Linked DNA regions of Homo sapiens. The protein of the gene in region 2 purifies or fractionates together with the protein of the main gene of each other region. This does not show direct contact. Each region holds a gene or a part of one and is shown on either strand. Other genes may lie near its edges. The genes, in order: OXSR1, RPAIN and PDXDC1.

Region 1 (3,651 bases), on a different chromosome or scaffold from region 2:
TAACAACTATCATTTTATACAAGCTAAACACTTCCCACAAATAATTACACTCAATCTATATAACGGCCCCAGTGACATAGGTACTATTCTCCCCACTATACAGACAAAAAGCTGACACGGAAACTAATCATATAATTTGTCTAAGATCACATAACTAGTAAGAGGCAATGTCAGGATTTGAATCTGGGTCAGTCTAACCCCAAAGCCCAAATTTTTACAGCTGCTTCAACACATGCCAAATACAGTATAACACATGCTCAGAAATTCTAATCTAAGACTAAGGGCTCAAAAATACTGAAAGATCAATGATTAATTGTGAGAATGATACTAACATCTTTTACACATAATCATACTTAAAGAACTTCAAATCTTGCCAAAGCATGCTTAAGGTGATACAATTCTTTAAAAAAAAAAAAAAGTCCTTTGAATTTTCAATCTATAGGCTTTTAATATGTTCCTAAGAGGAGATTCTGTTCTCTGTAGGATTTTACCAGAAAGACGAAGAACAAAACAGAATGTGAGAAACAATCCCATAAATAGTATACTGCTGAGAAGCAAATGTGAAAAAAATTACAGTTCAAATAAACATGTTACAGTTCAAATAAATGTACGTGTTTTGATGGAGATGACACCATTACACTGATTTCTCTAGAATACAATCCTTTGAAAACAAAATTTAAATGATCCCAAACCCTTTTTTCTAGATTTTAATCATGTGTTTCCTGAAAAAGTTGAGTGTAATCTGAAATCATAAAGATTCATTTTGAAGACTATAGCTTATTATAAAATACTATGTAACAAACATTTTGGTATGGAAGCAAAGTTAGAATAAGAATACAATGCTTTACTGAAACTTGCTACTTATACTAGGCTGTAGCTCAAAGAAAAAAAATTTTTTTTCTCCCTGTTGGGAAAATGGAGAGAGGCTGTCAGGAGCAGACTGGAAGGACGTGACAGGTGTGGAACATCCATCAGATTTTTTTCACTCTAAGGATAGATACTTCCCTTGGCCAGGCACAGTGCTTCATACCTGTAAACCCCAACACTTTAGGAGGCTAAGGTGGGAGGATCACTTGAGCCCAGAAGTAGAGACCAGCCTGGACAACATATGAGACCCTGTCTCTACAAAAAAATAAAACAATGAGGCGGGCATGGTGGCACATGCCTGTAGTCCAGCTACTGGGGAGGACGAGGCAAGAGGATCACTCGAGCCAGGAGTTCATACAGTGAGACAGTGAGCTGTGATTACATTCCAGCCTGGGTGACAGAGTGAGACCCTTCTCAGAAAAAAGCAGGGGAGATCATTCCCTTAATCTGTGAGACAATGACCCCCATCTTCCAGTTTATATCCAAGAACGAATCAATGTAGATACAGGAACAAGGATCCCGAATTAGGCTACAGGAGACACAGATGCCAGTATTGGCTCTGCCTCTAATTAGCTACATGGCTTTAAGCAGTCATGTTACCTTTCTGTCTCTGTGTCTTCAACTGTAAAACAAGGTGGTTCACCTTACTTCACACCATACACAAAAATTAACTCAGTATGTATCAGAGGCTTAAATGCAAGAGCTAAAACTAACACTTAAAAAAAAACAGGAAAAAAAAATCTTCACAATGTTGGGTTAGTAAAGATTTCTTAGATACAACACCAAAAGCAAAATCAATAAAAGAAAAAAATGATAAACATCAAAATTCAAAACTTTTGTACTTTAAAAGACTCCATTAAGAAAATGAAAGAGGCCAGGCGCGGGGGCTCACACCTGTAACCCCAACACTTTGGGAGGCCGAGGCAGGCAGATCATCTGAGGTAAGGAGTTCGAGACCAGCCTGGCCAACATGGTGAAACCCAGTCTCTACTAAAAATACAAAAACTTAGCCTGGTGTGGTGGCACGCATGTGTAATCCCACCTACTTGGGAGGCTGAGACAGGAGAATTGCTTGAACCCAGGAAGCGGAGGTTGCAGTGAGCCAAGATCATGCCACTGCACTCCAGCCTGGGCGACAGAGTAAGACTCCAACTCAAAAAAAAATAATAATAATAAAATTAAAGAAGGCTAAGCGCAGTGGCTCACGCCTGTAATCCTAGCACTCTGGAAGGCTGAGGCAGGCAGATCGCTTGAGCGATCAGGAATTTGAGACCATCCTGGGAAATGTGGCGAAACCCAGTTTCTACAAAAAACACAAAAATTAGCCAAACGTGGTGGCATGTACCTGTAGTCCCAGCTACCTGGGAGGCAGGGGTGGGAGGATCACTTGAGCCCAGGAGGTGGAGTGAGCCCTGATCATGACACTGCACTCCACCCTAGGTGACAGAGTAAGACTGTCTCAAAAAAAAAGAAAGAAAATGAGAAGAAAAAAAAAACTACAGACAGGAAAATATTTAAATTAAATCATATATCAGATGAACGACGCATACCCAGAATGAATACACATACAAACACACATACACACACTTCTATAACTCAAAAAAAAAACGAACAGCCAGGCGCAGTGGCTCACCCCTGTAATCCCAGCACTTTGGGAGGCCAAGCAGGCGGATCACCTGAGGTCAGGAGTTTGAGACCAGCCTGCCCAATATGGTGAAACCCCATCATTACTAAAAACACAAAAATTAGCTGGGCATGGTGGCAGGCACCTATAACCCCAGCTACTCAGGAGGCTGAGGCAGGAGAGTTGCTTGAACTCAAGAGACAGAGGTTGCAGTGAGCCGAGATGGCACCACTGCACCCCAGCCTGGGCAACAGAGCAAGACTCCATCTCAAAACAAACAAACAAACAAAAAAAAAAACAACCCAATGGGCAGTCCAAGTGGACAAAAGATTTGAATAGATATTTCACCAAAGAAGATCCATGAAAGTCTAATAAATAAGGACATGAAAGGATGTTCATCATCATTAGTCATTAGGGCAATGCAAATCAAAACCACAATGAGATACCACTTCATAGTCACTAGGATGGTTACACGCAAAAAGACAACAAATTTAGAGAAACAAGAACTCTTATAATTACTAGTAGGAACATAAAATGGTACAGTTACTTTGAAAATCAGTTTGGCAGTTTCTTAAACAGTTGAATTTGTGATATAACCCAGCAATTCCACTCCTGGGTATACATCCAAGAAAAATGAAACATATTCATGGGGTGACTTGATGTGAATACTCAAAGCAGCCTTGTTCCAAACAGCCAAAAAGCAGAAACAATCCAATGCCCATTAACTGGTATCCAATAAAAAGGAACCATGTACTACATGGCAGATGGATGAACCTCAAAAAGCATTATGGAAAGTAAAAGAAGCCAAACACAAAGGACCACATATTATATGATTACATTTACATAAAATGTCCAGAAAGGACAAATCTATAGAGACAGAAAGTATATTTGTGATTGCCTGGGGCTGGGGGTGGGAACAGGGAGTAACTGCAAATGGACATGAGGCATCTTTCTGGAATGATGGAAATGTTCTAAAATTGGATTGTGGTGATGACTGAACAATTATGTAAATTTACTAAAAGATTATTGAATTGTACATTTTAATCAGGTAAATCTTATGGTACGTAAATTATATCTCAAAATTGTTTTTTTAAATGAAAAAATATTTATGCTAAGTGGAAGAAACCAAACATGAAAGACCACATGTTATATGATCCCAT
Region 2 (3,651 bases):
TGAACTCCTGACCTCAGATGATCCGACCGCCTCAGCCTCCCAAAGTGTGGGGATTACAGGCGTGAGCCACCGCACTCAGCCACCAATTCTGTTTTTGAGACAGAATCTCACCCTGTTGCCCAGGCTGGAATCCAGCAGCACGATCTCAGCTCACTGCAACCTCCGCCTCCCGGGTTCAAGCGATTCTCCTGCCCCAGCCTCCCGAGTAGCTGAGATTACAGGCACCCACCACCATGTCCAGCTAAGTTTTGTATTTTTAGTAAAGATGGGGTTTCACCATGTTGGCCAGGCTGGTCTTAAACTCCTGACCTCAGGTGATCTGCCCACCTCGGCCTCCCAAAGTGCTGGGATTACAGGCGTGAGCCACCGTGGCCAGCTGAGACTGGCCAATTCCTTGTGAGGAATCAGGCTGAATGAAGTACACGGCATATTGTAGTGCTTGGTAAATATTTGTGCAAATGATCCTTAAATGTAGTGGGAGGAGTCAAAGTCATTCAGACAGAACAGCCTAAACAACAGCACAGAGGCCTGAAAGCACTGCATATTTGAGCATCTGCTACCAGTGCTGGATAGCTGGAACAGAAGGGAACATATGCTTGTAGTCAACAGGAAGTAGTGAGGGGTTTTATTTAAACTTTCACCTGCTATGTCTCTTTCCATACAAGCTGATGGAAAATGGCATCCTTCCACCAAGGCCTGAGCCTGGAGCAGGAAACAGCAGGGGCACTGGAACCACAAAGACCTGGGGTCTAACACCAGCTCTATCGCTTATTAGTAGTAAAATTTTGGCCAGATTACATCACTTCTCTGAATCTGTTTCCTATTCCTAACAGGAACTATCCTCTCCCTCATGAACCTAATGCTCCAGCTAAGTAGAACAAGATGCTCTTTGTATATACTCCAGTTTCCTGCTTCTCTGCCTTGTTCTTCTATGTGGGGATCTTCCACTTAAGCTCTACCCCCACAACTCACCAGATCTCCATGTCTGTCCAGATCGATTCCATGCTTCAAGGCCAAGTTAAATGCCTCCTCCAGGAAGGTGTCACCATAAAGGAGATCACCCTCCTCTGAACTCCCATAAGCCCTCCTTGTACAGCTCTCCAGGGTACTGCCTGTTTATTCTGTTCTCTTATTACCAACCCAAGGCTTGAGCTCTGTGAGAGATGTGTATTTCTCAATGTTAATGAGTCCTCAATTCATTTTTTTTTTAATGAATGAGTAGAATACCTATGGAAGAAACTTGATAAAGGTGAAATGGCTGTTACCAGGCAATGCTGCTTATAATAAAAATGACCTCTGTAGGTTAACTGCATTTGGAATGACAGGGCCATGAAGGAATTCTAAATTCCCAGTAGAAAGCCATGGCTATGAACTTCCTGAAGTACAGTGTGCTCCTAATCCCAAGGCTCCCCCTGCCTGGGATCTAAAAGCAATAATAATACGTATCATATTGGTTTTATGTGTGTTTGTGTGATATATATACACATGTACATACATACATACACATATATGGAAAGGACATGGATTATAAGAGATATTGGTTCCTATAGCACGCTTCTAAGACAGGTGGTTCCCTTACCCACTTGTGTTCCTGGCCCTCACACCTCAGTTGTCACTCAGGTTAGCGAATAGCCCTTGGACCTCTGTAAAAACTCCACTGACAGACAAACCTAATGCTGCCCTGCTATGCTTCTGCCCTGTTTCCTTCCGCAAAAGTGGTGCCAGCATGGCCTATCTGGGTCTTATGACTATGAAATGACCAGCTGAATCCAAAACCACTACTACTGATCAAAGAAGAGCAGGTGTGGAGCCAGGCGTCCTAACTCCCAGACCAATCCTCTTGCCGTGATCCCATGCTGCCTCTTCCCTTCTTTCTGACTGGCCTTTGAGTCTAAATGACTTGTTACCTTCACTTTTCTATGCAGGTAAATTCCTCAGATAATAAACTGCATTAAACATTTACCTGTTTATAGGTCATTATTTCTATCAAGGTGGGAATAAAACCAACCACAGGTCCCTCTTACCACAGAGTGGGTCCCAGGAGACGCTTACCAGACAGCTCATGAGAAGACTGGACTTTTCTTCTGTTCCTCCAGTGACTGAAAATTCAGGTGTGTGGGGACAATGTGCACTGTGCTCATTTATACTACCCTCTAAACAGGCACGAAGCTTCTGCTCTGTCAACTCAGAAGACTACAAAATAAAAAAGTTCAACCTCCTCTCAGTGACTTGATAGCCAACAGATGGAAAATCCTCATTCCTCATGCCAACCAATATAACCGTGGCTCACTGTGATGGCTTGACTCCTTGGAGCCTTAAAGACACTCGGGCCCATGACTGTACCAAGATCTCTTAACCCATCTCCATTTAACTGCCTCTCCAGATTAACCAACGCCCTCTACTCCTGCTGTCAAACACACTGATGGCCACTCATGGCAGGAAGAACGCTCAGAGATTGTAGGCTACTTTCCAGCCTCCCTCTGCCTCTGCCCCCACCAGCTGAGTGCATCCTTACCAACAACTAGCAGTATATGCTCCCGGGTCTGCTTGGGTTACTTGAACTTCCTACTGTAACTCAGTAATGCTAATTACTTATTATGTAAATAATAAGTTTTATTTTTATAGTGATAAGTAGAATGTTTAGGAAACAAACAGATGAGCTGCTTAAAAAAAAAAGAAAGAAAGAAAAAGAGCTATAGAATTAGGTAAAAGATGGGGAGGAAAAATTCCTAAGTTGTATACTCAGTTTCTTGATCCACTTTATGGAATTAAAACCGGAAACTCTGGACTATGTATTATAGAAGTTGTTTATGTAAAAAAGGTGACTCAGCGAGGCACAGTGGCTCACGCTTGTAATCCCAACACTTTGGGAGGCCAAGGTGGGCAGATCACCTGAAGTCAGGAGTTCGAGACCAGCGTGACCAACATGGTGAAACCCCGTCTCTACTAAAAATACAAAAATTAGCCAGGCATGGTGGCACGTGCCTGTAATCCCAGCTACTCAAGAGGCTGAGGCAGGAGATTCGCTTGAACTCGGGAGGTGGAGGTTGCAGTGAGCAGAGATCACACCACTGCACTCCAGCCTGGGTGACAGAGTGAGACTCTGTCTCAAATAAAATAAAAAATAAAACAGGTGACTCAGCTCTCCAATCAGCAGGGCCCCACTCAAAGGCTGGCAAATAAATTTATGTGTTTGAAACTTACCATAAAACATTTTATTTTTATAATTTGCCTCTTTAACCAATCGCTCAATTAACTGGCAAACTTGCAGTCCCCATCATGCCAGATAAAAGGGCTTTTTCTGTATTTTAAGATTACTGAAGGCCGGGCGTGGTGGCTCACACCTGTAATCCCAGCACTTTGGAAGGCTGAAGTGGGTGGATCACGAAGTCAGGAGTTCGAGACCAGCCTGGCCAAGATGGTGAAAACCCATCTCTACTAAAAATAAAAAAAAAATTAGCCGGGCGTGGTGGCAGGCACCTGTAATCCCAGCTACTTGGGAGGCTGAGGCAGGAGAATGACTTGAACCCGCAAGGCAGAGGTTGCAGTGAGCCTAAATCACGCCACTGTACTCCAGCCTGGGCAACAGAGTGAGACTCCGTCTCAAAAAAAAAAAAAAAAAAATTACTGAAGCTTAAATTCTGAATTAGG
Region 3 (3,651 bases), on a different chromosome or scaffold from region 2:
GAACAGAAACTCAAAGACAAGCAGATAACATGCTCATAGAGGCCTAGGCAGACACACCTTGGTGACCAGCCTCATTTGCTACGTATTCTTGAAAACAGAGAAGTCATAAAGTCAGGCTGGAAAGAAACCTTAAGGAGTCCACCCAGAAAGGAATGAAGCTGGCTTCTCGGCCGCATGTCCAATGGCTCGTGTCTCTCTCCTTTCAGAGCAGTCTTACCTTGGTCCCTCTTCTCTCCTTTTGAGTGATTTTTAGGGAAGTAATCATCTGTTTGGAGGATACCTTATCAGCCTTGTATCCTGGTCCTCCATGCTAAGGGACCCACAGCAGTAGGTCTATTCCTGGTGGGAAGTGCTATAGGGAAGGGGTGTAGGGGGAACCACACATACAACAGCCCATTTCATTCACCCTCAGGACACAGCTCCAGAGCAGAAGTCCTCCCTGACCTTGGTGGCAGGGGTGAATGTGTCTGCCTGAGTGTCCAGCTACCCGCCCTCTTCTCTAAGGCAGGGTTACTACACAGCGTGGCTATGTGGATCTTTCCCCCTGAGCTTGTGAGATCACTGGGGCATGGGCTGTGTCAAACCTACTTGGCATCTCTGACACCTGGCACAAGGCCCAGCTTACAGGAAACATTGACAGACTTTGAGAGACAACGAACAGACATCCCAAGGGCAGCTGCTTTCCTCGTGGCCCCTGCTGTTTGGTGGGACAAAACTCAGAAGAGGAATGAACACTGATGGGTGCTACGGACCCTCGAGTTCTCCTCTATCTCCCGGGCTGTGGCCGCAATGGTCTCCACGAGCTCAGCAGCATCGACGTTGTCGCTCGCCATGCCGACATAAAGGCAGCTCTTCATGCTCTTATACTCAGGGCCTGCAAAGGTAACGAGACAAACTTGAGTTTCTCAGTCCTCTGTCATGGGTGAGACGTGGACCTACTCTCCTGTTCAGGGTCCTGACCACACACAAAGGGGTCTCCTCCATGGAGATTCTAAGGGCGGAGAGAAAGGCCTGGCAAGGCTGCAGAAGGGGAGGGAGGTCTCAGAACCGCATCTTCGCCTGGAACCCAGCCCGAGAGGCGCTAGCCCGCTAAGGGATGAGCCGTCGTCTTCAAAGCCGGTTACCAAGTGTCCTTCCAAACCCCACAGCTGACTTACAAAGTAAGCAGTTACCTATTTTAAAGGTTAGGTCAGATTCCAGTTCATTTAACTTCTTCAGGAGTCCAGCATGGATGTTTTCCCCTTCGGGATCTGATTTCAAACTGCTCTTATCATCATTAGCATGTTCATACCTAAAACAACATCAAACCACAGCATTTCAGCTTAAAAGATCAAATGTCTCTTCTGATACAGGATTAGAAACCTCTAAATATTAGCAAGACAATGCAGTGGAACCAGTGGGCAAAAGAGCTACTGCGAGTGTCTCCAGACCACAAACTTTCTGGAAGTGTGCCAGGAGTAAAGAGAAAGTCACAGGAAAGCCTTTTTTTTTTTTTTTTAAAGCAGGGTCTCACTTGGTGGCCCAGGCTGGGGTGCAGTGGCATGATCTTGGCTCACTGCAACCTCCACCTCCTGGGCTCAGTTGATCCTTCCATCTAAGCTTCCCGAGTAGCTGGGACTACAGGTGTGCACCACCACCTCTGGCTAATTTTTGTATTTTTTCTAGAGATGGGGTTTCGCCATGTTGTCCAGGCTGGACTCAAGCTCCTGGCCTCAAGTCATCTATGCTCCTGTTGGCCTCCCAAAGTGCTGGGATTACAGGCATGAGCCACCGTGCCCAGCTGAAAGCCTAAGTCTTTAGTTCCATACAAGGTCTGGAAGTCTCATGGGCAATACAAAAAGAGGTTTGCCTCACCTCTGAAGGCGAGAAAGCAGCCATAGGACTGCACCCAGTTCTCTCCCCGAGAGCTGGGTTCTTTTTCTTACTGATTTGCAATTCTCTATATGCCCTGGATAGTAACCATTCTCAGTGAGTGATATATACCTGTTGGCATCTTCTCCTAGGTAGCTGAGAGTCGGCACCTACAGACAGAACATTCAGCAACTCCCCTCCCTGAGCGCCACGCTGGCCAAATTGCCTGCTTGCACTGTGCTTTTGTAAATGCCCAGAAAACCGAGTTGCATTTTCGTTAAGCATATTGTGACTACACGTTCATCTTGGATTTCTAAGGTGGTTCAGAAAATGACCCACTCATGTTCTTTATACAGAAAAGTCTCCAACATCAAGCGGCAGGCCAAGACTTTACCTGACAACCCCTATTCCAGACCAGTTAGGGTCATCAACATATAGGAGACCTGCTGTTGCTTCCACTTCCTGCTTGAACTCTTCACGCAACTGGAGCGTACAGCACAGCACTGGCAGTTTGCTTTCTATGCAGGCTACGAGCTGATCCACATCCTCTCCCCGAGTTCCTAAAACTGAAGATGTTCACAATGTCAGAGAAATGCTCACGAGATGGCCAATGACAAGAGGGCAGGGCTCCCTCTTCCACTACTGGGAAGGTCAAAAGCTCGAGGTACTCCAGTTACCGGGAGCCATGGAGATTTAAACAAAAAAAGGCCCTCAACACAGATATGGAAGAATTAGGGTTAGAAACAGACACAGCTGGCTGTAGCAGGTGTGGAGTGTTTCTCTCACAGATGTGGCCCACAATGACATACTCCAGTGTTAGAAATCACTCTTCCCACAGCAAGCCTACTTCAGGCAGGCTGGAGACATCACACCATAGGTTCAGCACAAAAAGGCAACCACAGATTCTGTACATTCCTATGACTGAGAGAAAGGGAAGTACTGTGGTGGGCTGCTGTCCCCACACAGGAAGGACAGGGAGATGGTGACAGCGCCGGGCCTCAGGGCTCACTGGCTTACTTTTGCAGTTTTAGAGACTAAGTATCTAGAGCTGTGGCCAGGCAATCCTTATAGTGGCCAGTGCTTTGGGAATCTGAGCCAGGAGGATCACTTAAGGCCAGGAGTTCAAGAGCAGCCTGGGTGACAGAGTGAGACCACGTCTCTATGGAAAAAAAAAAAAAAAAAAAAAAATAGATGTGGTGGTGCTCGCCTGTAGTCCCAGCTCCTTGGGAGGCTGAGGCAGGGGATTGCTTGAGCCCAGGAGGTCGAGGTTGCAATGAGCTATGGTGAAGACACTGCATTCCAGCCAGGGTGACAAATGAGACCCTGTTTCTAAAAAAAAAATAAAAACCAAAACACAGATCCCCAGGCTCCATTCTAGAATCTCTGGGGGTGGGCGGCCACTGGTTGTGTGTAAAGCTCCCGGATGACTCTAATGTGCAGTGGGGAGTGAGAACCCTTGTAGTGGAAAATCGAGAGTCACAAGACATCAAAATATAGGAATTCCAGCCTGGCCAACGTGGCAAAACCCCATTTCTACAAAAAATGCAAAAATTAGTCCAGTGTGGTGGCTCATGCCTGTGGTCCCAACTCCTCGGGGGCTGAGGTGGGAAGATCACTTGAGCCCAGGAGGTCAAGGCTGCAGTGAGCCATGATCGCACCACTGCACTCCAGCCTGGGTGACAGAGCAAGACCCTGTCTCAACAACAACAAAAAAGGAATTCATGTGATGACTTTTTTTTTTTTTTTTTTTTTTTTTGAGATGGAGTCTCCTCTGTCCCCCAGGCTGGAGTGCAGTGGTGT

Evidence for each region.
Region 1: the proteins of RPAIN (region 2) and OXSR1 purify together in Homo sapiens (affinity purification with mass spectrometry; one large-scale study listed by BioGRID and IntAct). This does not show direct contact.
Region 3: the proteins of RPAIN (region 2) and PDXDC1 purify together in Homo sapiens (affinity purification with mass spectrometry; one large-scale study listed by BioGRID and IntAct). This does not show direct contact.

What each region holds. Positions count from the first base shown.
Region 1 is NC_000003.12:38,168,434-38,172,084, reverse strand, and holds part of OXSR1 (serine/threonine-protein kinase OSR1), read right to left. Parts: intron 1-3,651. UniProt on the Homo sapiens protein: Effector serine/threonine-protein kinase component of the WNK-SPAK/OSR1 kinase cascade, which is involved in various processes, such as ion transport, response to hypertonic stress and blood pressure.
Region 2 is NC_000017.11:5,426,613-5,430,263, reverse strand, and holds part of RPAIN (RPA-interacting protein), read right to left. Parts: intron 2,194-3,651; coding exon 2,053-2,193; coding exon of another isoform or gene 1,987-2,052; exon of another isoform or gene 603-1,986; intron 1-602. UniProt on the Homo sapiens protein: Mediates the import of RPA complex into the nucleus, possibly via some interaction with importin beta.
Region 3 is NC_000016.10:15,030,501-15,034,151, reverse strand, and holds part of PDXDC1 (pyridoxal-dependent decarboxylase domain-containing protein 1), read right to left. Parts: intron 2,418-3,651; coding exon 2,246-2,417; intron 1,292-2,245; coding exon 1,173-1,291; intron 875-1,172; coding exon 753-874; intron 1-752.